Linked DNA regions of Homo sapiens. The protein of the gene in region 4 interacts with the protein of the main gene of each other region in a pairwise test. Each region holds a gene or a part of one and is shown on either strand. Other genes may lie near its edges.

Evidence for each region.
Region 1: the proteins of GOLGA6A (region 4) and CDC7 interact in binary tests that used the Homo sapiens proteins (3 or more experiments, as listed by UniProt).
Region 2: the proteins of GOLGA6A (region 4) and FAM161B interact in binary tests that used the Homo sapiens proteins (3 or more experiments, as listed by UniProt).
Region 3: the proteins of GOLGA6A (region 4) and TTC5 interact in binary tests that used the Homo sapiens proteins (3 or more experiments, as listed by UniProt).

The regions. Positions count from the first base shown.
Region 1 is NC_000001.11:91,517,845-91,524,870, reverse strand, and holds part of CDC7 (cell division cycle 7-related protein kinase), read right to left. Parts: intron 6,339-7,026; exon of another isoform or gene 6,196-6,338; intron 4,742-6,195; coding exon 4,592-4,741; intron 831-4,591; coding exon 436-830; 3' UTR 1-435. UniProt on the Homo sapiens protein: Kinase involved in initiation of DNA replication. Phosphorylates critical substrates that regulate the G1/S phase transition and initiation of DNA replication, such as MCM proteins and CLASPIN.
Region 2 is NC_000014.9:73,933,079-73,940,104, reverse strand, and holds part of FAM161B (protein FAM161B), read left to right. Parts: intron 1-1,992; coding exon 1,993-2,157; intron 2,158-2,403; coding exon 2,404-2,503; intron 2,504-4,016; coding exon 4,017-4,156; intron 4,157-5,710; coding exon 5,711-5,849; 3' UTR 5,850-7,026.
Region 3 is NC_000014.9:20,302,938-20,310,088, forward strand, and holds the start of TTC5 (tetratricopeptide repeat protein 5), read right to left. Parts: upstream 3,015-7,151; 5' UTR 3,001-3,014; coding exon 2,950-3,000; intron 1-2,949. UniProt on the Homo sapiens protein: Cofactor involved in the regulation of various cellular mechanisms such as actin regulation, autophagy, chromatin regulation and DNA repair.
Region 4 is NC_000015.10:74,072,535-74,079,560, forward strand, and holds part of GOLGA6A (golgin subfamily A member 6A), read right to left. Parts: intron 6,156-7,026; coding exon 6,075-6,155; intron 5,220-6,074; coding exon 5,181-5,219; intron 4,920-5,180; coding exon 4,869-4,919; intron 4,769-4,868; coding exon 4,687-4,768; intron 4,591-4,686; coding exon 4,484-4,590; intron 3,452-4,483; coding exon 3,365-3,451; intron 3,257-3,364; coding exon 3,149-3,256; intron 2,957-3,148; coding exon 2,869-2,956; intron 2,468-2,868; coding exon 1,959-2,467; intron 1,683-1,958; coding exon 1,614-1,682; intron 284-1,613; coding exon 208-283; intron 1-207.

The DNA.
Region 1 (7,026 bases), on a different chromosome or scaffold from region 4:
GAGCACCAGCACCAGGTTGAGTTTCCCCAAACTATACCTAGCTCATAACTCTAAAAGAATCTACAAATTAAGTCTTTTGATTCATTTAATCCTCATCACATCTGTTAATTTTAATTAATTAAAACTAAAACTGCTCCTTTTTCTGTATATGTCAGTGAAAGGTAATTAGGGAAGCTAAAAATCTGACCTAATAGGAACCCACCTAAAATCTACTTAGGTAGGTTTAACTCAAAGAAGATCATGTTGTTAGTCCCAAGAACTATCCCAGGCATTTTAAGTATTCTTAATCTATATTTTAGAATGTGCCACCAAACACTAAAATGTTAAAATAAATTATTAATCCTGCTCTGGTCTCTAAACAAGAACTTGTGGCTATTACAAAGTATTCTTTTTTATTCTACCTCATAACAGTAAACATTAAATGAAGATCCATTATCACAAGCTCATATCTTTAAAAAATGGATGCAACAAAGCTTCTTCTGCTGTTATTCTTGAAGCTGGATTTAGATCTAGAAGTTTATCAAGCAGGTCATAAGCTTCATCAGGTACCTCATTCCAGCCTTCTAAATTGGTATTATACTCATCAAAACAATGCTCACAGCTATTACTATCCCCCTTTTTAAATGAATTCCCTGAGTATTGTCCTGGAGGTGTTTGAACGAGGCAAGAAGCTTTATGGTCAGTCTTCTCTGAAATAGCTGGTTGATGAGAAGCATGCCCTTGTATATCACTTGTTAACTTGGGAGTGCTAGAATCCATACCCCTGAGTCTCTCACAGAGTTTTCTCAAGTCTTGTGCTGGAACTTCTTTGCTACATAATATTGATTTCCCTAAAAGCAAAAGAAGAAAAAACAAAAACAGAAAAAAACATTTTATTATTTGAATATATCAGAAGCCTCTCTCATGAGAAACATGAAAGTTCAAACATATGCTTTATAGACATGGACACACACACACACACACACACACACACACAGTATGAGATAGAGCACCACATGCTATATTTAAGTTGTATTTGAATTGCATAGTGGGAGATAAAGTGGGAGATAGTAAGTACAAAGCAGTGACTTACTAAGCTATGCCAGGCACTCACTTGACTCTGCCAATTTCTCAAGCTTCATCTTACCCTTCTATAATCTTTAACTAGCTGCAGCTCCCACGCCCCCACTCTACTTCCTTTCCATGCTTCTATGTCTTTGACTACATGACTCCTGTCTTTGCCTAGGATGCCCTGCACCCCTTGTGTGCCCAGGACACTCTCACTGACATCACCACTCAGATCAAGAATCACCTCTGAGGCTTGACACCCTCAGAGAGAACTGATCAATTTCAGTTTCTACTGTATCTTGAGAGTTCTACTATTACTTTTGCTATCCTATATATGTCTGTCCCACCTAGTAGACTGAGCTCTTTGAAGGCAGGAACTGTCTTATTTATCTTTGAACCCCCCAAACCCAGCCTATGCCTGGTACAGATTAGGTAGTCAGTTAATGTCTGTTGGACTAGACAAAAAGGCATTATTCTTTTCAACAACTGTTCAAATGACACATACATCCTTAGAGATGCTGTTCTTGACCAACCTATCCTAAATAAGCCTCTTCCCTCCCCTTTTCCTTTTATCTCAGTACCACTCATTTCTCATAGTATTTATTTATGTTCTCTCCCTCACTAGAATTTAAGCTCTGTGAAAGCAGAGACTCGCAATAGTACTTGGCACACATAAAGCCCCAATAAATGTTTCTGAATGAACAAATAAACAAACTAGATCTGTTTTTAAAAATATAAATGTATTTGAAATAACTTCCTGATGGGTTTATTATCAGATGTGCAAAAAAAAGTTAATCACACAAATGGCAATCATGTATTATTTTTGCCTTACATTTCCTTATTAAACAGAAATATACTAAATGTACGAAACAACAAGTACCACAACATTTAGATGCCTTTCTGAGAATGTAGATTGTCAACAAAGTCATTAATCTGACTGTGGATGATAAAAAGTTACCTTTACATATTCTGAACTAACTACTGGACTGGTGTACTAAGCCAGGGAAAAAAATGGGGGAGGGAAAGGGAGGAAACAAACAATTACTGAAGACCAAATTCTTTGAGAGTACAATATGCCAATGCTTTTTTACTTTTAAACTGATTCTATCATTCCTATTCTCTCTAGAAAATTATAGCCAGGGGGGAATATTCATATAGTTTTATTCCTTTATTAGCTTGTTCTGAAGTCATAAAATAACTAATAGTATATGTTATAGCATGTCCCCAAGTTATACAATATGCTTTTTTTTATATGACCAAAAAGAGGGTTCATTTACAATATTCAGGAAAAATAACTTCAAGTAACACTATCAGTCAACATATTTTATTACAGACTACTATGTGTCAGGAATTTGTTTCAGCTCAAGACTTTTCTTTTTAATTTATTCAACACAATTCACTGAGTACTTAATGACAACCCACAATGGAGCCAGGTTTAAGGGTTGAGGACAGATAAGAGAAGTAAAGGTGCTCTCACTGCTAATCTCAGCCAAGTCATTTCTTTAGGTTACAAAGGGGAACACAGTTGTGTTTGTTGAAATTTTGAGGCTTTTATACTCAGTCCAAAGTTATAGTAAGATCAAGACTAAAATAACTACAGATGTCATACTAATACAACTGAGACAAGTCCTATGGCATTATTTTTATTATTTGTTTTTTTGAGACAGAGTCTTGCTCTGTCGTCAGGCTGGAGTGCAGTGGTGCAATCTTGGCTCACTGCAACCTCCATCTCCCAGGTTCAGCTGGTTCTCCTGCCTCAGCCTCCCGAGTAGCTGGGACTACAAGTGCATGCTACCATGCCCAACTAATTTTTGTGTTTTTAATAGAGATGGGGTTTCACCACGTTGGCCAGGATGGTCTCGGTCTCCTGACCTCATGATCTGCCCACCTAAGCCTCTCAAAGTGCTGGGATTACAGGTGTGAGTCACCACGGCTGGCCCTATTTTTTTTTTAATATGAGAAGTATTACAATGATAAATCTCTAAAAGCTCTTGCTTGCTATCATGGCACTTGATCTAGAGTATTTTTGGGTCAGATGTTGTATTTCCATTGTTGGCCCTGATTATAACTTGGATTACAATGGGGGAGATTCAAGCTCTTCAATAAAATATGTTGGTATTGGCTGATAAACTTCATGTTCATAAACCTCTCACGAAGTTATTCAATAGTAGATGAAAGTTTTCTCAGTTGAGAATAAACATACTTGTTATATTATTATGTAAGAATGCCATTTCTAAGATATCAATCTTGCTTTCCACTCATGGTCACTTTTTTTCCCTTGTATTATTTCATCCTATTATCTTCAAATAAAATTTTCTTACAATAAGTACAAGATAGTTACAAATCGTGGACTGACTTTACTGTAGAAACATATTTTGGCAAGCCTCTATTAAGATGAGGCTTTCTTCACAACCACCACTAAGTTTTTCTTGTAGATTAGACTATAGCACTAGTGCATAAGCAAGGGCAGTAATTTTTGCAGTGGTTCTTAAACACCCATAGTTTCTTAGTCAGAATCACTTGCTTTTTCAAACTAACAAGGCTGGAGCCTTCCTAAGTATCTTGTTTTTCTGAATCATATTTTCCAAGAATAGGCTGAGTGGGCAGGCATATGTATTTCTTAAAGATTCTCAGATAATTCTGACATGCAACTCTGGTTAAGACCCACTGATCCTGGGGTTGAGCACAAGACAGCCCAGCTACTCTTGAGGTAGGCTGGCTGAAACTTTGTCTCCTGAGGTGTTCTGTATTGTATGGTAGTAAGCTGAGTCAATCCCACTTATTCCTTGGAAAGTATTAACTATAACTGAGCGTGGAAAATAAACATTAAATGGGCACTTGAGTTCAGATTGTTGGCCAGAGCAAGGCTGAGATAATTCTTATGTGCCCTATGAAGTACACTGCACATCCCAGTCTTGAAGAACTTGCGTGGCTAAGGAGATGACATCCAAGTCCAATATATGCTTACAATAATATCCCATCAGTTAAGGCCTTCTATGCATTCTGCTTCTCTGCTACCGTAAACCTACACAACCTGACAACACACATTTCCATTCTCTTCCCTAGTCCTTATTACACTGTATTAATAATTAACTGTTTACTTGTTAGTATAGCCTAAGATCATTTAAGGCAAGGACACTCTAAGTACCAAGACATAGTGCATCTGATGTTTAAAAGACAATAAAAAAGTAAAACATATTACAAAGTAAAACATGCCTTTAATAAAAGGTAAATTTATGTAATAAAAGTCAAACCATAACTAAAAGGAGTTAAGATTTTACTCCTTATTCTTATAAAATTATAAAGGTAAACTTTAAATACTGCAACAGTGTATTACTTTGTGCTTAATAAGATTAAATGATTATATGTATAGAGAGGTGATAAATTTATTTTCAAGCAACTGAAGAATTTTCTACTTAATATTAGAGAACTTTATCAAGACTGAATGTTTATTTGTAAAGAAAATTTCACAATAATTTATTAAGTGATTTGTAGGAGATAATCAAAGGCATTTTGTTTGGTTCTATAATACAAAACTGCTTACCAAAAGTTTTAGCAGCTTGGATAGTTTCTCTGGATCCCCTAATTGTCATAATTTGGGCCAAAGCAGTTAAATCATCACTTGCTTTATAAAATGGATATCGTCCACTAAGCAAAGAAAGAAATATGACACCTGCAGACCACATGTCAATTGCTGCAACAGAAGACAAATTTTAAAAATAAATTTCAAATCTATAATTTTATCATCTAAATCAATAGTCCTCAACATTTATTATGCATTAGAATCACCTTGGGAGCCTTAAAAATTTCAGATGCCCAGACCCAAAGATTTTGATTGAACAGTTCTGAAGTAGGGCTCAGGCATCAATGTTTTAAAAAAGTTCCTCAGGTGATTTTAATGTACAACCAGGACTGAGAATCCTCACTGCAAAATATGTTTTCTTTCTTGAGCAACGTGTTGGTAAATTTAAAAGGATATTTAATCACTAGGAAACACTAAGTAAACGCACATTTTATAGGATCAAAAGGAATCCAAAAATAGCTATGTGGGAAAAAATCTGAATGATCCTTGAGAATTACATACCATACTGGTCAAAGTGCTTTCATTTTAGTGAAAAGTAATGAACATTAGAAGCTCTTCTTCAGCTGACACTAGCACCAACTACTGCTATAGAAACTTTTAAAAAATTACTTTTTTATTTTTTTGTGACTGTGAAGACTTTAATTTTTCTGAGTACACAGTAGGTGTATATATTGATGGGGTATATAAGATGTTTTGATACAGGCATGCAGTGTGTAATAATCACATCCTGGAAAACAGGGTATCCATTCCCTCAAGCATTTATCCTTTGTGTTACGAACAATCCAATTATATTCTTTTCTTTTTTTCTTTTTGAGACAAGGTCTCCCTCTGTGGCCCAGACTAGAGTGCAGTGGCACAGTCTCAGCTCACTGCAATCTCTGCCTCCCAGGTTCAAGCAATTCTCATGCTTCAGCCTCTTGAGTAGCTGGGATTACAGGCATGTCACCATGCCCAGCTCTTTTTTTTTTTTTTTTTTTTTTTTTTGTATTTTTAGTAGAGACGAGGTTTTGCCACATTGGCCAGGCTGGTCTCAAGCTCCTGGGCTCAAGTGATCTGCCTGCCTCAGCCCCTCAAAGTACTCTTTTAGTTATTTTAAACTGCACAATTAAATTACTGACTATAATCCCCCTGCTGTGCTATCAAATACTAGGTCTTAATTCATTCTTTTTTTTTTTTTTTCGAGATGGGGTCTGGCTCTGTTACCCAGGCTAGAGTGTGGTAGTGTGATCTCGGCTCACTGCAACCTCCGCCTCCCAGGCTCAAGTGATCCTCCCACCTCAGCCTCCTGAGTAGCTGGGACCACAGATGCACACTACCACATCCAGCTACTTTTTTGTATTTTTGGTAGAAATAGGGTTCTACCATGTTGCCCAAGCTGGTCTCGAGTGCCTGAGCTCAAGCAATCCACCTGCCTTGGCCTCCCAAAGTGCTGGATAATTCATTCTTTATAACTATTTTTTGTACCCATCAGCTGTCCCCACATCCCCCACACCCTCCCACCACCCTTCTCAGCCTCTGGTAACCATCTTTCTGCTCTCTATGGGTTCAATTGTTTTAATTTTTAGATCCCACAAATTAGTGAGAACATGCAACTCTTGTCTTTCGGTGCCTGGCTTATTTCACCTGACATAATGATCTCCAGTTCCATCCATGTTGTTGCAAATGACAAGATCTTCTTTTTCGTGGCTGAATAGTACTTCCATTGTGTGTAAGTACCACATTTTCTTTATCCATTCATCTGTTGACGGACACTTAGGTCGCTTTCAAATTTTGGCTATTATGAATAGTGCTTCAACAAACATGGGAGTGCAGATACCTCTTCGGTACATTGATTTCCTTTCTTTTGGGTATATACCCAGCAGTGGGATTGTTGGATCATGTAGTAGCTCTATTTTTAGTTTTTTGAGGAACGTCCAAATTGTTTTCCATAGTGGTTGTACTAATTTACATTCCCACTATAGAAACTTTAATCTTCTGAATTCTGGTAGTTAAAGATTACGACTAGCTCAACTTGATGTTAAAAAGCTCTTTTTTTTTTTTCTTAAAGTTGACATCTCTCTTAATTGTTGACTTCCTAGTATCACCAGGTTATCTGCTCTCTGTTCCTTGGGCTACTGTATCACCTTTTTTTTTTTTTTTTTTTTTTTGAGACTGAGTCTCACTCTGTTGCTCAGGCTGGAGTGCAATGGTGCGATCTTGGCTCACTGTAACCTCTGCCTCCCGGGTTCAATTCTCCTGCCTCAGCCTCCCCAGTAGCTGGAACTACAGGTGTGTGCCACCATGCCCTGCTAATTTTTTGTACTTTTTAGTAGAGACGGGATTTCGCCATATTGGCCAGGCTGATCTCGAACTCCTGACCTAGTGATCTGCCTGCCTTGGCCTCCCAAAGTGCTGGT
Region 2 (7,026 bases), on a different chromosome or scaffold from region 4:
CATGTAGGGGAGTACTCAGAACCTACTTGGATCGTTAAGCCCCACAGCAGGGATTGTAGAAGAGTATTTACGGTCCAAGGGATACTCCTTTCTTCTTCAGACTTCAGTTAGACCTACTAAATCAGGGCTAATTAATTGCTCAGTATCCTGAGGGCCCAAGAACACAGGCCTCCTGAACAAAGAGGCTGGCCTTCCTATAGAGGACATCCACATCTGCTTTCCAGCCACAGGGAATCTGACATATTAACAGATTAAATTTTCATGTCCTTCTTCCCAGTATGTCCATTTGAATATAAACATCCAAATATAAGAGTCTTGGTTGATTTTCCTTTTGGAAGAACTCAACATATTACTTTGTAGATAACTGAACAAACTAAGTGCTACAAGTTGAACCCAAATAGTCTGCACTGAGGGAGGCTCATTTCCAGTTCTCTCTGAATGTGCAGATTTGTATTCCCAAAGGACCATGAACCCAGACACCTTCCAGCCCACTGTTTCCAGCAGAGTGGTCAAGGCCAGAGGCTTCGGAGTCAGAGGTCCTGGTCCAATAGGGGCTTTTCCACTGGCATGCTGGGTAGCTTTGAGCAAGGGGCTTACCTCCTTTGAGCCTCAATCACCTCCCCTATAAAAAGGGAATTTAGTATTTACCTCATAAGGCAGTTATGAGGACAATGTGAAATGTAATGGTACTTGGTTCATAATAAGGAGCTCAGTAAATGGTAGCTATTAGTATTATTTTGTATCCAGATAGGCGAAGACCTATTGAATGTTGGACTGTTTAAGTAAGGATATATATATTTTTTTTCGAGACAGAGTCTTGCTCTGTCGCCCATGCTGGAGTGCAATGGCGCAATCTCAGCTCACTGCAACCTCTGCCTCCCGGGTTTAGTGATTCTCCTGCCTCAGCCTCCCAAGTAGCTGGGATTACCGGCACGTGCCACTACACCCAGCTAATTTTTTTTGTAGTTTTGGTAGAGACAGGGTTTCACCATGTTGACCAGGCTGGTCTCGAACTCCTGACCTTGTGATCAGCCCGCCTCAGCCTCCCAAAGTGCTGAGATTACAGCCATGAGCCACCGTGCCCGACCTAAGTAAGGATATTTTAACTGACGTTTCTCCAGTTCAGTAAATGCACTTCTAGGGTAGGAACTCACTGTGTCCCTAGTGCTGGAAAGGCTTCATCTGCCAGTGCATTTAATCCTAGAATTTTATTATTTTTAAAAATGGCAGTTGAGGTAAATTACATGCCCCATTCATTAAAAACACCAACTTACTTTCCAGAAAAGGTTACTAAGATTGCTTTATTTTATTTATTTATTTATTATTATTTTTTGAGACGGAGTCTCTCACTGTCGCCCAGGCTGGAGTGCAGTGGCACGATCTCGGCTCACTGCAAGCTCCGCCTCCCAGGTTCATGCCATTCTCCTGCCTCAGCCTCCCGAGTAGCTGGGACTACAGGCGCCCACCACCGCACCCGGCTAATTTTTTGTATTTTTAGTAGAGATGGGGTTTCACAGTGTTAGCCAGGATAGTCTCGATCTCCTGACCTTGTGATCCGCCCGCCTCGGCCTCCCAAAGTGCTGGGATTACAGGCATGAGCCACCATGCCCGGCTATTTTATTTTATTTTATTATTATTATTATTTTTGAGACGGAATTTGATCTGTCGCCCAGGCTGGAGTGCAGCAGTGCGATCTTGGCTTATTGCAACCTCTGCCTCCCGGGTTCAAGCGATTCTCTTGCCTCAGCCTCCCGAGTAGTTGGGATTACAGGTGCACACCACCATGCCCAGCTAATTTTTGTATTTTTAGTAGAGCTGGGGTTTCACCGTATTGGCCAGGCTGGTCTTGGACTCCTGACCTCAGGTGATCCACCTGCCTTGGCCTCCCAAAGTGCTAGGACTACAAGTGTGAGCCACCACACCTGGCCTAAGATTGCTTTTCAGTATACCCAGGTTGGTAATCTATACTCTTTTTCTGCCTCCTTCCTTTAGAAGTGCACTTGAAAAAAAGAACAAAGCAGATGAGAGTATTCAGTGGCTGGAGATACACAAAAAGAAGTCTCAAGCAATGTCCAAATCTGTGACCTTGCGTGCAAAAGCCATGGATCCCCATAAAAGCCTGGAGGAAGTGTTCAAAGCAAAGCTGAAAGAGAACCGGTCAGTGTCCTCTATGTGTCAAAAGGGGTGCTTGCCTTGGGATCCAACAGACCACTGGCCTATTGCCAGAAAATGCAAAATAGAGTTATCGAGGTAGGTAGGCTCCTGTAATCACAGCAGGGTCATGATTTTCCAAGTCAGATAGGAATTTACAGTGTACACGAGAGTTACACTGCTTTACTGGAAATGAAGGGTATTCTGGATTAGAAAAGATGAAATTCTTTCTAAAAGTCTTGCTAATTCCAGGAACAATGACCGTAAAAGAGCGAAAGAATATAAGAAAGAACTGGAGGAAATGAAGCAGCGAATACAAACAAGGCCCTATCTCTTTGAACAAGTTGCCAAGGTAAAACTAAACCATCATTTGTTTTCTTTCTGCCTTAGATAAAAGGACTCTGAAAAATTACAAAACAATTTTAATATGTGGGTATTAAAATTTTCCTTGAGGCCCAGAAATTCTAATTTCACTACTACCTTCTTTTCCCAAAATAAATAGTACAATAGAGAATGCTGCTTGTGTTGATTTCATCCAAGAGTGGACTCCAAAGGCATCGATAAAGGGATATTTCACTTCCTAGAGCTTTCACTGTAGTCTACCATTCAGATTTCATCAGACTGGGCATTAGACCCCAGAGACACAGGGACCATTTGGCTCTTTCTATGCTCTGGAGCCACTGTTCACAGTGCTGGAAAGGTATCTCTCCTCTGGCAGTGCTGCTGGCCCTGGGCCTCCCCAGCCTCTAGAGCTGTGGTATATTTATAGGTCTCCAAGCATTAGGATGCCCACAAACACCCTGCAAGGCTTTCTCTAGACTAAGTGGCTTTCAGGCTGGAAGCCTGAAATTTTTTTTTCTTCTTTTATTTTGTATGCATGTGTATGTGTGTGTGAGTGTGTGTTCCTTATGGAGCAGGGCTAACCCATAGGCAGTGTACCCGAAGTATCCTGGAAGAGTATCATTTTAAGATATTCTCTGTAGACTTTTAGGGATGTTGGACTCAGCTGAGATCTCCGTAAGGATGTAAGGATGCTCTGTTTCTACTGCATTAGGCTCTGTGGATCTCTTTCCTCTCCAGTTTCAGACAAGTTGGGGTTCCATAGTGACCTAGTTCCAATGGCAGGGCATTAGCTCCATCTTATAGTTAGTACATTGTCTAGGCATTTGCTGGCTCCACTTCCTCCTCCCTCCATAAATCTTTCTCCTCTCACACACATAAGCACACATGGTCTTGGATTTACTTAGCAACCTGCATTGTTCAAAATCTCATGCTTCTTTATGTTAATGTTAAGCAAGCTCACTCTTCAGATCTCAACAGATCTTTCACCTCTCTAGGAAAAATACAAAGTACTCTATGATTTTGTTCTTGAATACTTAAACAAAAAATAATATTCTGCTGGTCCACATGCAGACCATCTGTCCTTCCACTAAGAGTCTTGGTGTAGCTTATTTTCTATTTTATTTTAGTGTTCCTGATAATGGTTTGTTGCTTTAAAATCTTAGGTTTTTAGTCCATCCTTTTAAATCTGGGTCTCATTTGTCTCCCAAAAGTCTAAGTCATTGCTTTTCAAAATTGTGACTCCCAAATCAACAGTTTGGCATCTCTGGGGAGTGTTAGAAATACAGAATTACAGTCCTCATCTGACACCTACCAAATGTGAAATCTGCATTTTAACAAGACCTCAGGTGATTTATATACACATTAAGGCTGGAAAACAAGGGTTAAATAATTTTCTTGCAAATCTATGCCCCACAATAAGGGTGGTGGTGGTTGTGGCAGTATTGTAACAATACTGATTAAGTAATTTAGAATTGTCTGGTAATTCATAAGACAGCTACAACAGATTAATTTCCATCCCACAGGATCTAGCCAAGAAAGAAGCAGAACAGTGGTATCTAGACACCCTGAAGCAGGCTGGGCTGGAGGAAGACTTTGTGAGAAACAAGGGTCAAGGCACCCGGGCTGTTCAAGAGAAAGAGACCAAAATCAAGGATTTTCCCAGGTAACCTGAAATGTTGCTGTCATTCTGCAGCTCTCTAAATTGTCATACCCAGTAATACCACTGGGAGGAAACTTTAGAATAGCCACTGGTATTTTGAGATCATAATCCTGTATTTATGTAACATTAATAAGTAATCCAGAGATCTCCAAGTAACACATTTGAATTTAGAGAGTGATGCAGTTGTGAATAAAATCTGACAAATTATGTTTCGTTTTCTTCCATTTTGAAACAGATCATTTTCCAATTCCAGTTCCAATTTCATGAGCTGAAACTATTTCTACTTTATTTTTGAAGAAAAATCATGTATATTTTGACTTCTTATAAAACTATAAAACTGTTTTTCTAGCATTCCTTAAAGGTAGCTCATTAGTATCACCTTCTCCATAACCTTTTTTTTTTTATTTTTTGTATTTTTTTTTTGAGACAGAGTCTCACTCTGTTGCCCAGGCTGGAGTGCAGTGGCGCGATTTCTGGCTCACTGCAAGCTCCGCCTCCTGGGTTCACGCCATTCTCCTGCCTCAGCCTCCCGAGTAGCTGGGATTACAGGCTCCCGCCATCACGCCTGGCTAATTTTTGTGTATTTTTAGTAGAGACGGGGTTTCACCATGTTAGCCAGGATGGTCTCGATCTCCTCACCTCGTGATCTACCCTCCTCAGCCTCCCAAAGTGCTGGGATTACAGGCGTGAGTGACCGCGCCCGGCCCTCCATAACCCATTTTGATATTGAGTCAAAGGGAGAAAATAGTATCTTCTCTCCATTATTCTCAATTGTTTTGTATCTTAAATCCTAGCAGCCCCTACCCTAATTCCTATCTCAGTTTTATACCCCTAGAAATTTTCCTTTACATCCCATATAAAATAGTAATAATGTTGAGACTTTTTTTTTTGAGACGGAGTCTTGCTCCGTCGCCAGGTTGGAGTGCAGTGGCGCAGTCTTGGCTCACTGCAGTCTCTGCTCACTGCAGTCTCCGCTTCCCGGGTTCAAGCGATTCTCCTGCTTCAGCCTCCTGAGTAGGTGGGACTACAGGTGTCCACTACCACGCCCAGCTATTTTTTGTATTTTTAGTAGAGATGGGGTTTCACCATGTTGGCCAGGATGGTCTTGATCTCTTGACCTCGTGATTCACCTGCCATGGCCTCCCAAAGTGCTGGGAGAGACCGTTCTTAAACCTTACACAGTGCTTTAAGACTTTCTTTTTTCAGACTGGGCACGGTGGCTCACGCCTGTAATCCCAGCACTTTGAGAGGCTGACGTGGGTGGATCGCTTGAGCCCAGGAGTTTGAGACCAGCCTGGGCAACATGGCAAAACCCTGTCTCTACAAAAAGTTAAAAAAAAAAAAAAAATTAGCTGGGTGCAGTGGCACGTGCCTATAATCCCAGCTACTTGGGAAGCTAAGGTGGGAGGATTGCTTGAGGTGGGAGGGTTGCTTCAGCTGGGCTGTCCAGGCTGCAGTGAGCTGAGATCATGCCACTGCACTCCAGCCTGGGTGAGAGTGAGACCCTGTCTGAAAAAAAAATTTTTTTTGTTTTTCATGTTTTAATTTATTCTGCAGGTTCCAAGAAACTACAAAACTCAGCATCAGAGATCCAGAGCAGGGTTTAGAAGGATCTCTAGAACAGCCTGCAAGCCCCAGGAAAGTACTGGAGGAGCTGTCTCATCAGTCACCAGAAAATCTCGTATCACTTGCTTAATCACTACACTTAAAATTACTGCTTTTGAAAAATATTAAGCAGCTAACTTGGGTTTGAGTCAAGGCAGGGAAAACTTGGGTTTTGAGTCATGGCTACTGTTAGAGGATGGACAAATGAAGAGTAGCAGATTAACAGGCCAGGCGCAGTGGCTCACGCCTGTAATCCCAACACTTTGGGAGGCTGAGGCAGGCAGATCATCTGAGGTCAGGAGTTTGAGACCAGTCCAGCCAACACGGCAAAACTCCACCTCTACTAAAAATACAAAAATTAGCTGGGCGTGATGACACGTGCCTGTAATCCTAGCTACTTGGGAAGCTGAGGCAGGAGAATCACTTGAACCCAAGAGGCAGAGGTTGTAATGAGCTGAGATCACTCCACAGCACTCCAGCCTGGGCAGCAGAGCAAAACTCTGTCTGAGAAAAAAAAAGAGCAGCAGATAACAGAGAATAGTTCAAGGAAATCAAAGTGGGGAGGCTCAGGTGGAGGGATGGTAGCCTAAAGTTAAGGGTTCCTGCTTTGTGCCTCACACTTAGAGAATTAGGTACAGAAAAGAGAGCACAGGCCCAAATGCCTATAAGGGGCTAGTGCAGAAACATAAATGCGTCCATGGAGTGGGTGTAGACAGTAGGAGATAGTAGACACTGGAAAGTATCAAATCCTGCTGGAATATAGGCTCAGAGTTACTACATCAACTACATTTTCATCAAGCCAGAAATTTGTATGCTATCAACTAATTTAAAAATTACTTAGAAATATTGTATGGGCAAAATAAAATACATCTGCATATCAGATCTAGCCCATGGGGGATGAAAAACTTACAACTTCTAGTACAGGATTTCTTATCCTCAGTGCTATTAATATTTTGGGCCACCTAATTCTTTGTTGAGGGTTGGGGAAGGGAACTGTCCTGTACATTGTAGAATGTTTAGTAGCATCCCTGGCCACTACCTGCTAGATGCCAGTAGTACCCCTCTCCCCAGCTGTGACAACCAAAAATGTCTCCAGATATTGCATATCCCCAGGGGGCAAAAATGTGCCTGGCTGAGAACCACTGCTCTAATATAAATGGCTGCATGAAGCAAAAACTGGCATTCTAAGAATACAAGTAATTGCCATGAACACAGTCTATGTACTATGTGATTATGCATGTCATTAACAAATTAAGAATTTAAAACAA
Region 3 (7,151 bases), on a different chromosome or scaffold from region 4:
CCTGTAATCCTAGCACTTTGGTAGTCCAAGGCAGACGGATCATGAAGAGATCGAAACCATCCTGGCCATCATGGTGAAACCCGGTCTCTACTAAAAATACAAAAATTAGCCAGGCATGGTGGCGCACACCTGTAGTCCCACCTACTCGGGAGGCTGAGGCAGGAGAATCGCTTGAACCTGGGAGGCAGAGGTTGCAGTGAGCCAAGATCATGCCACTGCCCTCCAGCCTGGCAACAGAGCAAGACTCCGTCTCAAAAAAAAAAAAAAAAGAGTCTCGTAGGTTGCCCAGGCTGGTCTCAAACTCCTGATTTCAAGCAATGCTCCCACCTCAGCCTCCCAAAGTGCTGGGACTACAGGCATAAGCCACCAAGTTTCATATTTAGATTTGGGTCCCATCCCCAAGTTATCTCATTATGTATATGCAGATATTCCAAAATTCAAAAAAATCCAAAATCCAAAAAACTTCGAGTCCTAAGCATTTCAGATAACAGATATCCTATTCTTTCCTGAAACTAAATAGATAGCAGCAGAAAGATATAATCACTTCCCTTCGAGTGTAATCAACAATCTTCACAACACATCCTGAATTCATCCACCTGTCTCCATCCCACTATGACCATTCCTGGATTACATCAGCTTCATTACTTGCCTGGACTGCAAGAGCTTCTTAACCAGTCATCTTGTTTCTGTTCTCTCCCATTCTCCTCACTGTAGTGGGAGTGATCTTATAAAAAACGTACATCATATCACAAACCTTCAAATAGTTTCCCATTGCAGACAGAATAAAATCCAAGTCCTTATCATGACCTAGAAGACTGTATGAGCTGACCTACCACCACCCATCCTGACACAAACTTCACCTCTCACCATTCTCTCTCCTACAATACTCAAGCCAGAGTTGCCTTCATGCAGTTTCTCAAACCCATCAAGCTCAGCCCACCTGGAAGACCTTATGCCTGGACACTTTCTCCAGATCTCTGCATAACTTATTCCTCATCATCATTTAGATCTTAGGTCAAATATCAATTCCAGAAAGGTTTTCCCTAATTACTCAACCCAAATGAATCCATTCCTTCTCTCCTCTACTGTTATATCATACTCTTATTTTTCTTCATACTTATTTAAAATCATGTGGCCTATCATTAATTGTCTATTGTCTGCCTCCACCACTGAAATGTAAGCTCCAGGATGGAAAGGCCTTTAATCTGTTTTGTTTCGAGCTACACCTGAGCACCAGAACGGGACTTGGGACATGATAGGCTCTAATTCACTACACTTGATTGAATTAACTAACTAACTATCCCTGTTCTAACAAATACATATGTGCTATACTTAATTTAAAATCCTATCCAGAATGAAGGGAACAGACTAGCACCCTCTGCAAATTTTATTGTATTATATCCAAGACCCAGCCTGCAGAGACTCTGATTTTAACAGTTTAGCAGAACTCAAAATTCTACATTTTTAACAGGCACCCCAGATGACTGTAATGAAACTGTCTGTAAAACACACTTTGAGAAATATCCATTTATACACTCTTTTTACACTAAAATGTCTTTAACAATGAAATCAAAGTTTACCACCATCTCCATGAACAGCAACACCATTATCTAATCCTTTTCCTCTTCTCTACTTCACTCCTTTATTCCATTCCTGCACCGACCCCACCCCAAGATAACGGAAGTATCCTCTCCCAAGCTGCTTAGGACATTTACCACAAATGAACCTAGGAAAAGACAATTCTCATAAAAAATTACAACCAATTTCCTTTTGTCCTGCAATCAACATGGCTGCAAATTAAGAGTTTTAGAGAAGGGCTTATTGATTGGTTTTAGTTGTTAAACCAAACATTCAAGAAGTTGTTTGGTTTTATTGTTTGGTTTTGTTTTCCTCTGGACTGAATGTTTTTAGAAACTTATTTTTTCATGGCAAAATCAATACATGTAAGTTGTTAAAATTCAAATAGATACATGTAAAAAAAAGAAAGTACAAAATTACCCCAAAGAACCTCAGTGATAACCACTGATTTGTATACCTTTTCAGATTTTTTTCTGTGCATATACAAACATATATACACAAATAATGTTTCTAATATAGAACCAGAATTGAGAATCTCTGATTTCAGCCAGTCACAGTTAGGGAATAAAATGAAGTTAATCCAAATCAGCTGGAACACTCTAAAAAGTGTTACTATTTTAATGTACCCAAGAACAAAGAAATTTCACCAGTATTTAAATTTGTGCGTTAAACACCTTTAGGCAAGTTACAAGCCTGTCATAGTTCTAATATTTAAGTTACAGGCTGCCTTAGAACGAAGAACTGAGTTCCTGAGGTGTAAGGAAAATCATGGGTTCTTAAAGGCAAAGAGCCAAGCAACTAGTTAACGCCTCCCTACCAAGTCCAAAAGACTAGTCTTACCTGTGGACTATGTGGAGTCTGGACCCCTCTGCATCAGACCCCAAAGTGGAATTACACAGGTTGAAAGAAATCAAAACTGAAATCCTAAGGGGAGTAACCAGGACACTTGCAGTGCAGGTCATTAGCGTGATTGTTGCCAAATTCAAAGCAGAAAGGTGTTAAATGGCTTTTGTAGGGATCAAAACAACATGTGACAGTAGTTCATGCAGATCTGCCACACACATGTATATGCTATTCGCTATGGATGAATCGAGAAAACAACGTCCTCTCTAAAAATGTACATGAACAGTTAGGAGCAACAAATCTTCTTCCATACAGGACTGAAATTAACCGCAGTCAGGTCGGCAGCAGGAGGTTCCAACGAGGCTCCCTGGCTGGCTGCGGCTGCACCCTCGAGGGTTGTTATAGTAACCACACAGACGCACGCAGCTTCGCGTGTGTGCCGAGGAATTCACGGGCAGTACATAAACTGGACTCCCTGCTTCATTCGGAGTAACAAAAACACATACAGAATTTAATCTACGGCCCCACCTGCAATTTCTGCAAGATCGGCTTGACTTCTTCCTCTTCATCAGCCATCATCTCCCGGCCACTCCACCCCCAACTTTATAACCACAGAGACGCACGCCCTCTCTCACCGCGGAACCACAGCGACATCTGGCGTTCTGGAGGCTTTTCTGCCCCAGAAGGGCTTTGCTTCAAACCGACTTAACCATTTATTTCCACAGAGATGCTCTACAATCACTTGTGAGTTCATAAACTTCTTTCTTTCCCAGATCCTGGAAACAAAATGTCCTCAGCTTAATTTCTATATTCTTGTTTCATGTCTTCCTACTTATTTATACTAAGATTATAATACTCCATAAAGAAGAGAGTTTAAGAAGTGCACACCTGTGTTGTTTGAAATTTCGAAAGCCATGTAGTACAATAGCTACTTTACTCAATCTTTTCCAAACTTTGCAGTAATTTTCTATGTATGATTAATTTTATCATTTTAATGCACTATCTTAATAAATACTACACTTGGGATGGCTCATAAAAACCACCATGCTCTACACTAACAATGCCTCCATATTTATAGACAACATCCAGAAGGATATATAAGAAAGGATGACTGTCTCTGCAGAGGGAAACACAGAAACTGGGGAACTGTGGGTGAGCGAAGAAAATTTTCACTGCCTGCCCTTTTGAATTTTCTTGCCATCTATATGTATCACCTATTCAAATATAAACATTTTTAAATAAAAAATTATTTGCTTCTACATAGTCTCTGGAAAGAGACACAAGACACTGGCAAGACTATCGCTTACAAAGAGCAGAAGTGAGTGGCTGGAGCAAAAATGAGTGACCAGGGAACTGGGGTAGACTTTTCACTCTATGCCTTTTTTGTAACTTTAAAGTTTGTACCTTGTGAATATATTAAACTTCTGAATAAATCTTTTAAAGTGTCATGTAATATTCCTGGCAGTTTTGCTTTACTTTTTTAGTTTTAATTACAGCTTCAAGCTGATTCTGTGAAACTAACAAAGAAGTAAAACGTTCAAGGCAGAAATCATGAATATACATAAAATCATTTCCTCAAATCATTTTCCAACATAAAGGAAATAGTTTGTATTGTAACCTATAAAATCTATGTCGTTAGCTGTAAAATAGGGAGGGATGTTTTAAAAATTTTTTTTTGAGATGGAGTCTCACTGTGTAGCCCAGGCTGGAGTGCAATGGCGCCATCTCGGCTCACTGCAACCTCGGCCTCCCAGGTTCAAGCGATTCTCCCGCCTCAGCCTCCCGAGTAGCTGGGGCTACAGGTGCATACCACCACGCCCGGCTAATTTTTTGTATTTTTAGTAGAGACGGGATTTCACCGTGTTAGCCAGGATGGTCTCGATCTCCTGACCTCATGATTCACCCGCCTCAGCTTCCCAAAGTGCTAGGATTACAGGCGTGAGCCACCACACCCGGCCCTAAAACTTTAAAATTTTTCATCCTCTTTCTCAGACATTTTAACTTTGGTGCACACGAGGCTGGGCACGGTGGCTCACACCTGTAATCCCAGCACTTTGGGAGGCCAAGGCGGGCAGATCACTTGAGGTCAGTTCAAGACAAGCCTGGCCAATGTGGTAAAACCCCATCTCTACTAAAGATACAAAAATTAGCCAGGTGTGGTGGCATGCACCTGTAATCCCAGCTACTTGGGAGGCCAAGACAGGAGAACCACTTGAACCCAGGAGGCAGAGGTTGCAGTGAGCCAAGATGCTGCCACTGCACTCCAGCCTGGGCAACACAGCAAGACTCCATCTCAAAAAAACAGTAATAAATAATTTTGGTGCACATTAAGAATAATTTTTAAGAGATTTTATACTCTATATTCCTAGTGAAGGAAACACTACTTGCTTTTCAATTATGTAAAGCAGGGGTATTTAATTGCCTTTCTACAATGACTAAATATATCTTCAAATGATTTCAGTATAATTTTTATTACCTAAAAAACAATGGGATTTGACATTTAGGGTAATTCCATTGTTAACACATCTTAAACCATTAAGAATCAATCCTAAAATTTAAGAGTTAGAAAAGGCTGTAAGGATAACTTAATTCAGTCCTTCATTTTACAGATACAGAGACTAAGTCCAAGAAAGTTCAAACTAAGTAGAAACCAGAACCCAGATCTTCTGCCTCTCCAGCCAGTATGCTTTCAAATCTTTCCTCTAACAGGACATAAAGTTACTGAGAATGTCCTTCAAATTTCTATCATGGCTCTACATTTTAAATAAATAAATGCATAAACAATTTAATTCCCATAATAATAGTCAGAAATACTCACTAAATAAAGGAAAACAATAAATAAATCTTTTATTTTAATACAATCTCGAGATCAATAACACATTGGTAAACTTTCTGCAGAAGTGCATTCCTAAATAAGTAAACCCAAGGCAATAGTTGACAAAAAGGTAAAGAAGTAGCTTTATTTTAAAATACAGTCTTCCTTTGGTATCTTTGGGGGATTGGTTCCAGGAACCCTCATGGATACCAAAATCCTTGGATGTTCATGTCACTTTTATAAAATGGCATGGTATTTGCATATAACCTACAGATTCTCCCAAATACTTTAAATCACCTCTAAATTATTTATAATACCTACAATGTAAATGCTATCCAAATAGTTGTTATATAGTATTGGTTTTTAATTTGTATTTTTTTATATTATTTTTTCTCAAATATTTTTGATATATGGTTGGCTGAATCTGCAGAAGCAGAACCTATGGATACAGAGCACCGACTGTAAATGCCAAAAAAATTAACTTTAAAAAATAACTTCATCAACGTGAGTTATTTTTAAATACAAATAGGGACTGAACATACATGCATCAAATTGTACTCTCGTTCACTGACATAAGCACACCTCCAAACAATACGAAGGTAAATACATAAATATATACAAATAAATACACACACCCAAATAACAAGCTACACATCACCCACCATTTTCCAAGACCAAAATTTTCACATAAACATACTGGCAAATACAGCAAAATATCAGTGTACATTAACATACTTACATATACAGATATGCATAAATACCAGAATTCAAAGCAACATGTAGCATATAACACAGGTACTTAAGGCATAAACACCACAGCTCAGTGAGAAACAGCACAGGGAGAAAGAGTTATCTATTGAAACAAATACTATTGTGACCTTCTCACACTAGGGATGAAAATTCAGCAGTTCACAATGGAATTGAGACTAATAAAATGCTTATGCTTTAAATAATAGAAACAAAGAAACCAGACTCTAAACCACTCCCCACTGCCAATGAGTTTGTTATGTTGATAATGTGAAAACAACTTCAGAGACTTAAAAGCACAGAGAAGCTGGGGAGTCCTATCTAGAAAAAAGATTTGCTACCCTGCCCCTGCCCCTGCCTCTGCCTCTGCCTCTCCCTCTCCCTCTCCCCTCTCCCCTCTCCCCTCTCCCCTCTCCCCTCTCCCTCTCGGTCTCCCTCTCCCTCTCTTTCCACTGTCTCCCTCTGATGCCGAGCCGAAACTGGACTGTACTGCTGCCATCTCGGTTCACTGCAACCTCCCTGCCTGATTCTCCTGCCTCAGCCTGCCGAGGGCCTGCGATTGCAGGCGCGCGCCACCACGCCTGACTGGTTTTCGTACTTTTTTGGTGGAGACGGGGTTTCACTGTGTTGGCCGGGCTGGTCTCCAGCTCCTAACCGCGAGTGATCCGCCAGCCTTGGCCTCCCGAGGTGCCGGGATTGCAGACGGAGTCTGGTTCACTCAGTGCTCAATGGTGCCCAGGCTGGAGTGCAGTGGCATGATCTCAGCTCGCTACAACCTCCATCTCCCAGCCGCCTGCCTTGGCCTCCCAAAGTGCCGAGATTGCAGCCTCTGCCCGGCCGCCACCCCGTCTGGGAAGTGAGGAGCGTCTCTGCCTGGCCGCCCATCGTCTGGGACGTGAGGAGCCCCTCTGCCTGGCTGCCCAGTCTGGAAAGTGAGGAGCGTCTCTGACCGGCCGCCATCCCATCTAGGAAGTGAGGAGCGCCTCTTCCTGGCAGCCATCCCGTCTGGGAAGTGAGGAGCGTCTCTGCCCGGCCGCCCATCGTCTGAGATGTGGGGAGCGCCTCTGCCCCGCCGCCCCGTCTGGGAGGTGAGGAGCGTCTCTGCCCAGCCGCCCCGTCTGAGAAGTGAGGAGACCCTCCGCCCAGCATCCGCCCCATCTGAGAAGTG
Region 4 (7,026 bases):
TCTGGTCCAGTTCATTCATCCTTAGGCAACCTGGTGGCCCCCTGCTCCCAGGAGGTCACCATATTGATGCTGAACTTAGTGCGGACACCCGGTTGGCATAACGACCAGCTGTTCTAAAGGTCTCTTCCAACCCCTCAATCCTATGCTGCTAACAGTCCCCCCTTCCTCCTGGGGCTCTCTCCTCTTCCTCTGAGTGGTCTCCTGTACCTTCTCCAGGGAGAGCCACGAGGCTTAGCTGGGTCTCTAGCTGTTGGTTCTGGTGGCTGGCAGCTTCTAGGTGCTCCTAAGGGGACGGGAAACAGAGTGAGAAGGCACGGAGGTTGCCAGGTCATCCCCCTCGGGGCCCCGTCCTCAGCAACTCCCTCCCCTGGGTCTCCTGCAACTTTTGTCCGGCCATCTCAGCCACCGCTTTGCCCCAAGCTTCCTGCTGCTGCAGCTGGTCCACGAACTGGGTCTGCAGCAGTAACTGCCTGTGCAGCGCCTCCTTCTCAGAGGTCAGCTGCTGATAGGTGGCCATGTACTGCTGCAGGTGACCCAGGTACTAGTCTCGCTGCTGCTGCAGACTCTGAGACTCTTGGCTCTTCAGCTCCACCTGCAGGAAGACCCTGGGCATGAGGGCACATGGCGGCTGGCTTCCAGATTCTGGGCCCATTAATAGGGTAGCGAGGGCACCGTGGGGCTCTGTCACCTGCCCAGGACCCTGGTCCCTTGCTCCAGGCCTAAGAGGCTTCCTCCCTTGCCTAGAACCCCATACCTCCTTCCCCAGCCTCAAATCTCATGTCCTTCTTCCCACCATTTAAACTGTAGGCCACAGACTGGTGGAAAAGCAGAGGGAGCCAACCACCATCTGCTAAGTGTGCTACATGCCTAATGCTTTCCAGGTATTCTCTCATTCAATCCTCAGCACCTCTGCAAGGAAAATGCTAACTTCCTTTTGAAGTCACAGAAACAGAGACTTAGAGATGAACAGTAGTTGAATGGTGACCAGTGGAACCCAGGCCAGAATCCAGTTTGAATCTAAGGAGGCTTTTTTGTTTTGTTTTGAGACAGTGTCACTCTGTGGCCCAGGCTGGAGTGCAGTGGTGCAATCTCAGCTCACTGCAGCCTCCACCACGTGGGCTCAAGCGATTCTCGTGCCTCAGCCTCCTGAGTAGCTGGGATTACAGGCATGCGCCACCATGCCTGGCTAATTTTTTGTTGTTGTTGTTGTAATTTTAGTAGGGGTGAGGTTTCGCCACGTTGGCCAGGCTGGTCTCAAACTCCTGACCTCAAGTGATTCTCCTGCCTCAGCCTCCCAAAGTGCTGGGATTACAGGTGCGAGCCACCGTGCCTGGATAAGGAGCCTCTTGTACCACTGTCTCTTCCCCTGTGATTGGGGGCTCCATGTCTCTAGCTGGGATGATGATGTCCAGACCTGGGAGGAGCCCAGGGCTACCCACCTCTAAAAGTCAGAGGGCAGGAAGCAAGAAACAGTCATAGAGCTGCACTGGAGGGTGCTGGGGTCACCTGCCTCCCAGCTGGAGCTGCCTTTGGCCTGGCACCTCCCCTCCCCAGAGGCTGGTGCCCGCCTCCCAGCCCTTCTTGGATGGGGTGGAGGTTACCATCTCCTTCACCTCGTCTAGCTTCTCCTGCAGCTCCTTTACTTGCTGCTCCAACTGCAGTGCGCTCTTTTTCTCGTTGTTCTGGACAGAGAGAAGCAATCAGTGGCCATCCACTGCAGCTGGAGACACCAGACCTTGGTGTCTGCCTCCCATATCACCAGGAAGGGTGGAGGCAGGTTAGAAAAATCATCCCTTCTCCCCCACAGCCATCAGAGCAGAGCCCGATGAGCTGTAGCTCACAGGTGCCTTTAGAAGTAGCATTTCATGTGAGGGCTACACTGGCCCATTTTACAGGTGGGGAAACAAAGGCCTGGAGGGATAGGGATGAGGGCAGGCTCCCCAGGTGGGGCAACCCACCAGATCCTCGAAGCTGCACTGTGGCTCGGCCAGCTGCTTGTCGAGCTTGTGGTTCTGGGAGAGCGCGAGCCTCTCCTCCTGCTTTTGTAGCCTCTCCTCCTTCTTCCACAGCCTCTCCTCCTGGTCCCACAGCCTCTTTTCCTGCTTTTGCAGCCTCTCCTCCTCCTTTCGCAGCCTCTCCTCCTGTTTGCGTAGCCTCTGCTCCTGCTTTCGCAGCCTCTCACCCTGCTCCTGTAGCGTCTTCTGCTGCTCCCGAAGCCTCTCGTTTTGTTCACACAGTCTCTCCTGCTCCCGCACTCTCTGCGCCTCCTGCTCTCGGAGCATCTCCTCCTGCTCCTGGAGTCTCTGCTTTTGTTCCTTGCTAAGGAGACTCAAGGCCTGATTGTTTTCCACCTGGGACTGGAGCTTTCCCTCCAGACCTTCCACCTCCTGCCTCAGGTGTTTGGCCTCATCTTGTAGCTGTTCCACCACAGAGGTCACTGCTGGGGGCGCCAGGGATGGGGGCTCAGCTGAGAAATGAAGCAGACAATAAGGGCCTCTGGATTCCCCAACCCCTCTACCCACATCCCCCTCAAAAAAAAAAAAAAAACCTCCTCTTGATGCACAGCTCCTCTCAGGCTTCCCAAACTTGGCCTCACTGCTAATCATTCCTCGCACCCAATGGTAGCCAATTTCCAAGCCACTTTCACATAGAGAGCACTGTGGGTGGCTGACAACGGGCACTCCTCCCTCTTTGCTGATGGGGACCCTGAGGCTCATGGAGATGACAAAACTTGCCGTCTCCTGGCACAGACCTCTTTCCCTCTGCCTCAAAGCCCTTCCACCCACCCACCTCCCTGGGGCATTCTAAGCCACCCCCACAGACCTCTGATGCCAGTCCTGCTCCGAGGTCACACCAGCCCCATCTTACCCATCTGGTTTTTGAGTTCGGACAAGCTCCTCTCCAGCTCCTGTATCCGATGTATGTCACGCTTCTTCTCTTCCTTCAATGTTCGAGCCTGCCCAAAGCACAGGGGAAAGGGCCCTGGAGAGAGGGGCTGGTGGCTGGACAGGCTACCATCTCATTCTCTGTCCCCATCTCCACAAAGCCCAGACCCATGACCACCTCTGGCTGTACTATTCCCATTTTACAGATGCCCAGAAAGATCCAGTGACCTATCTAAAGTGGGGGCTGAAGGGTCAGACCTCACCTCCACCGACATTTTCCACATCCTCTCCTGCCACCGGGCCCTCTCTCCTTTTATGTGTTTAGCATATTCGTCTCGCTCTAGCTGGACTTGTTTTAGTGACTCTGTCACCTGCAAGAAATGGGCACAGAAGTTAGGAAGGGCTGTCACTGGTCCTCACCTGCTCCTGGCCACCTGGGGTCATCTTCCTTCCACATCCCTCCCTCTGCAAAGCCTCACCTGTGTCACGTGTGCGTTCAGCAGCGCCCGCTCCTTTATGGTCTGCTGTAACCACCGCTGGAGGACCGCTTCTCTGCAGCTCGAGGACTGGATGGTGAAGAGTGAGAAGTTTTGATCTGGGGAGCTCAGGCAGTGCCCCTTAAAAGGGCTAGGCTCAATATACAACTCGGTCAGTAAAGGTCAAGGCATTTCCAAGCCCGTGGCCTGGTTATTAAAAGAACTCAGTAAAGTTGGAAGGGAGAGGGAAAGAGATAGAATTTACAGCTGGCTAACAGAGGCCCAGAGAGATCAGATAATATTGCTATTGTTATTACTGTTATTACTACCACTGTTTGAACCGTTATGGAGTGCTTCACCAGGTTCCATGCTAGCAATCCCATTTAATCCTCACAACCACCATATGAGACGGTTACTAGGATTACCTCTATTGTGTAGATGAAAAACATCGAGTGTTCAAGGTTAAGTGCTTGCCTAAGATCACTTAGACAGAGCTGGGATTTGAACACCCAGGTCTATCCTATTCTCTAAGCCCATTTTTCTTGCTGGGGGTGGGGACACAGATAGGAAGGGGGAAATTAATCTTTTGTTCACTTTTTGAAAGGATGATACATTCATATAGTCCAAAACTCAGAAGGTACAGAAGGGAGGTGTCTCCAGGCACCCTGTTACTCTCTCCTGAGTTTTTTATGAATGCTTGCAGACATGTTTTTGTATATTATCATAGTACACACACACACACACACACACACACACACACACACACCCCTTTCCTCTCTCTACAGAAATGGTAACATACTAAAGGTGCTCTTCTGTACCTTCACAGAACAACTACCCAATACCCCACCTAGGACTTGGCCAAGGCCACAGCCAGGAAAGGGCAGGGCAGGCACTTGGCCTCTGAGCTCTGCATCCAGTGCTCACTCCCCACAGTGCCCCCCAACTCACCCACAGCAGCTGACTCAGCCCCAGGCTGCCTCTAACAACCATACACAAAAGTAGTGAGAAATGACCATGCTGCCTTCTGGGCAGGACACTCCATCCTGCAGAAGGGACCTTTAGGCTCACTCCTCTATCTGGGAAGCCAGGCTGCCAGGGGATGGGGCAGCTGGTTGGACTCACCCTGTCCTCTTCCTGCTGCTGTGTAGACACAGCACAGAGAGCCCGCTCCAATTCTTGAATACGCTGTAAGGAGTATTGCAGGCGGCCAGCCAGATCCTTGGACTCTTCTGTAATGAGAGAGGTTGAGATGGGGCCCAAAAGACTCCCCCTAAAGACCTGTCAAAGTGCCAGGTTGAAGGATGACGGGATGCCCAGATTCCCACCTTCGAAGTGTCGGGCAGCACGTTTAGTATGGTAAAGGGTGGTCTTCAAGTCTGCCTTTTCCAATGTGAGGATGTTGATTGTCTGGAATTGAACGTTTGGGAGAAAAGCCAAGGAAATGCTGAAAGAGAAGGAAAGAAACATTCTCCAGAGGACAGGAGAAAGCTCCCCACCCTCCACTCACCTCTAACCGCTCCATTTGTGCTTTGTGTATTTCATTGTTTGTTTTCTTTGCCTGTAGGAAGAGGAAGACAGAGCTCTTATCACAGGGAGGCAGAGATGGCACAGCAAGAGACATGCCCCCAGAATGCCACCAATGCCCCAGGACAGGCCCACCCATGGGACCAGGTTATCAGGGACCCTGTGGGGATGGGGTGGAATCTGATGGGTGAGCCTTCTTCCCCAGGCTGGGAGTGGGCAAGATGAGACTGGCGCCTCTGCATCTGAGTGTCCCCCAAACCCAGCAGTCATGTTGTGAGCAAAGAAATCACGTTACTTCTTCCAGCTGATGTTCCACTTGTTTCTTCTGCTGTTTCTGTGGGGAGAGTCAAATTCAGGTGACTGAGAGTGGCCCCCTCAACTCTATTCCCCAGACCTGGAAGCGGTAGGCAGGGTCCAGGAATGGATTTTAAAGGCAACATTCTCAGAACCAATGGCAACACAAACTGGTCAACCCTCTTCAAGCTCCCAAGGACAGAGGACTTGGGTCTTTGTTGGTTTTTGCCCACAGCCACAGAACTCGAAGTCTGAATCTGGATTCTCTTGAAAGGACAGTAACATAAACCCCTAGAGAGGGAGTCTCAGGAAGGCCCACCCTTCTGCCAGCTTGTGATTTAGAAAGGTGCCTTCATTCAACAAATATTTACTGAACACATACGGGCCAGCTACGGTTCTTCACAGCAGATATAGGATGGAAAAGGACAGACAGGAGCCCTTGGCCCTCAGGTTTCCATTCTAGGGGCCTTTAAATCTCAGGCTCTCAGAGCTAACAGAGAACTCTGATGCTCTACCTCCTCCAGAAACACAAGCCCAAGGAGGACAGGTGGCTTGTCCAGACTCAAAGCAAATTAGGGACTGAGTCAGGGCAGAAATACAGGGCCCCTGACAACCAGTCAGGCTAGCGCTTCCCTGAGAGGTGACAACCTCAGGGCGTGTGTGGCAAGGACTGGAGCAGGGGTGTCTGGAGAAGAGAGAGTCGGCAAAGAGGGCAGTGACAGAAGAGCCATGCTGCGTGCTCCTTGCTCTGGGGTCCCTCCAGGTGAGGCCTGGGTGCTCCAGCTCCCCATTTGCCCTTGGCACCAGGGGCCCCCAGCCCCTTTCTTCAGGGCCCCAAGGGGAAACTAAAGCCCAGGATTGGCAGCATGGAATCAGGGGACCCCACTGGACTTACCAATGATTCTATGTTTTCATTGAGTTGACTGATTGTCACTGAGCTTGACTCCAGGGCTACTGCTAGTTCTTGGTACTGGCTCTGAGGCACATGCAGAGAGGAGGAGTTGGAAGAGGATTGTGGGGAGAGGTAGAGAGAACAATCATTAGGGCTGGGGTGTGTGTGGGCTGTCTCAGCTGGCAGAGGGTCACCCAGCCCCCACTGTGAGAGGAGGTTGGAGGGCTGGCCTGCAAAGTCACTGCACCTCAGCCCAGGGCCTCTTACTTCCAGATCCTTCAGGGTAACAGATGATGCAGGAGTAATAAAAATGAGAAATTAAAAAAAAACTTACATGGGAAATAGTTATGTATATGGAGAAAGTATAAAAACAGCAAGGAGCCGGGCACAGTGGCTCACACATGTAATCCCAGCAGTTCAGGAGGCTGAGACAAGTGGATCACTTGAGGTCAGGAGATCAAGATCAGCCTGGCCGACATGGTGAAACTGCATCTCTACTAAAAATACAAAGAGTAGCCAGGCGTAGTGGCAGGTGCCTGTAATCCCAGCTACTCAGGAGGCTAAGGCAAGAGAATCACTTGAACCCGGGAGGCAGAGGTTGTAGTGAGCCGAGATCGCACCACTCCACTCCAGTCTGAGTGACAGAGTGAGACTCTGTCTCAAAAAAAAAAAAAAAAAAAAAAAAAAAAAAGAGCCCAAATCCCACGTGCCTGCTCTGTACGTTATTCCCAGATTACTTTTAAACTTTTAGGCGTCACCATTTCCAAGATAATAAAAGACGCGGGGAAGGAAAAAACCCAATCAATCAAGCAGGTGAAGAAGCAGACAGAAACAGGCTGAAGGTTAATGGCAGCAACATAAAACAAGGCAGAGGCCAAGCATCCCCCAAGCCAGAGAAGCCTCAGGGCCATGCACAGCTGTAGACAGCAAGCCAGAGAGGGGTCTTGGCACTGCC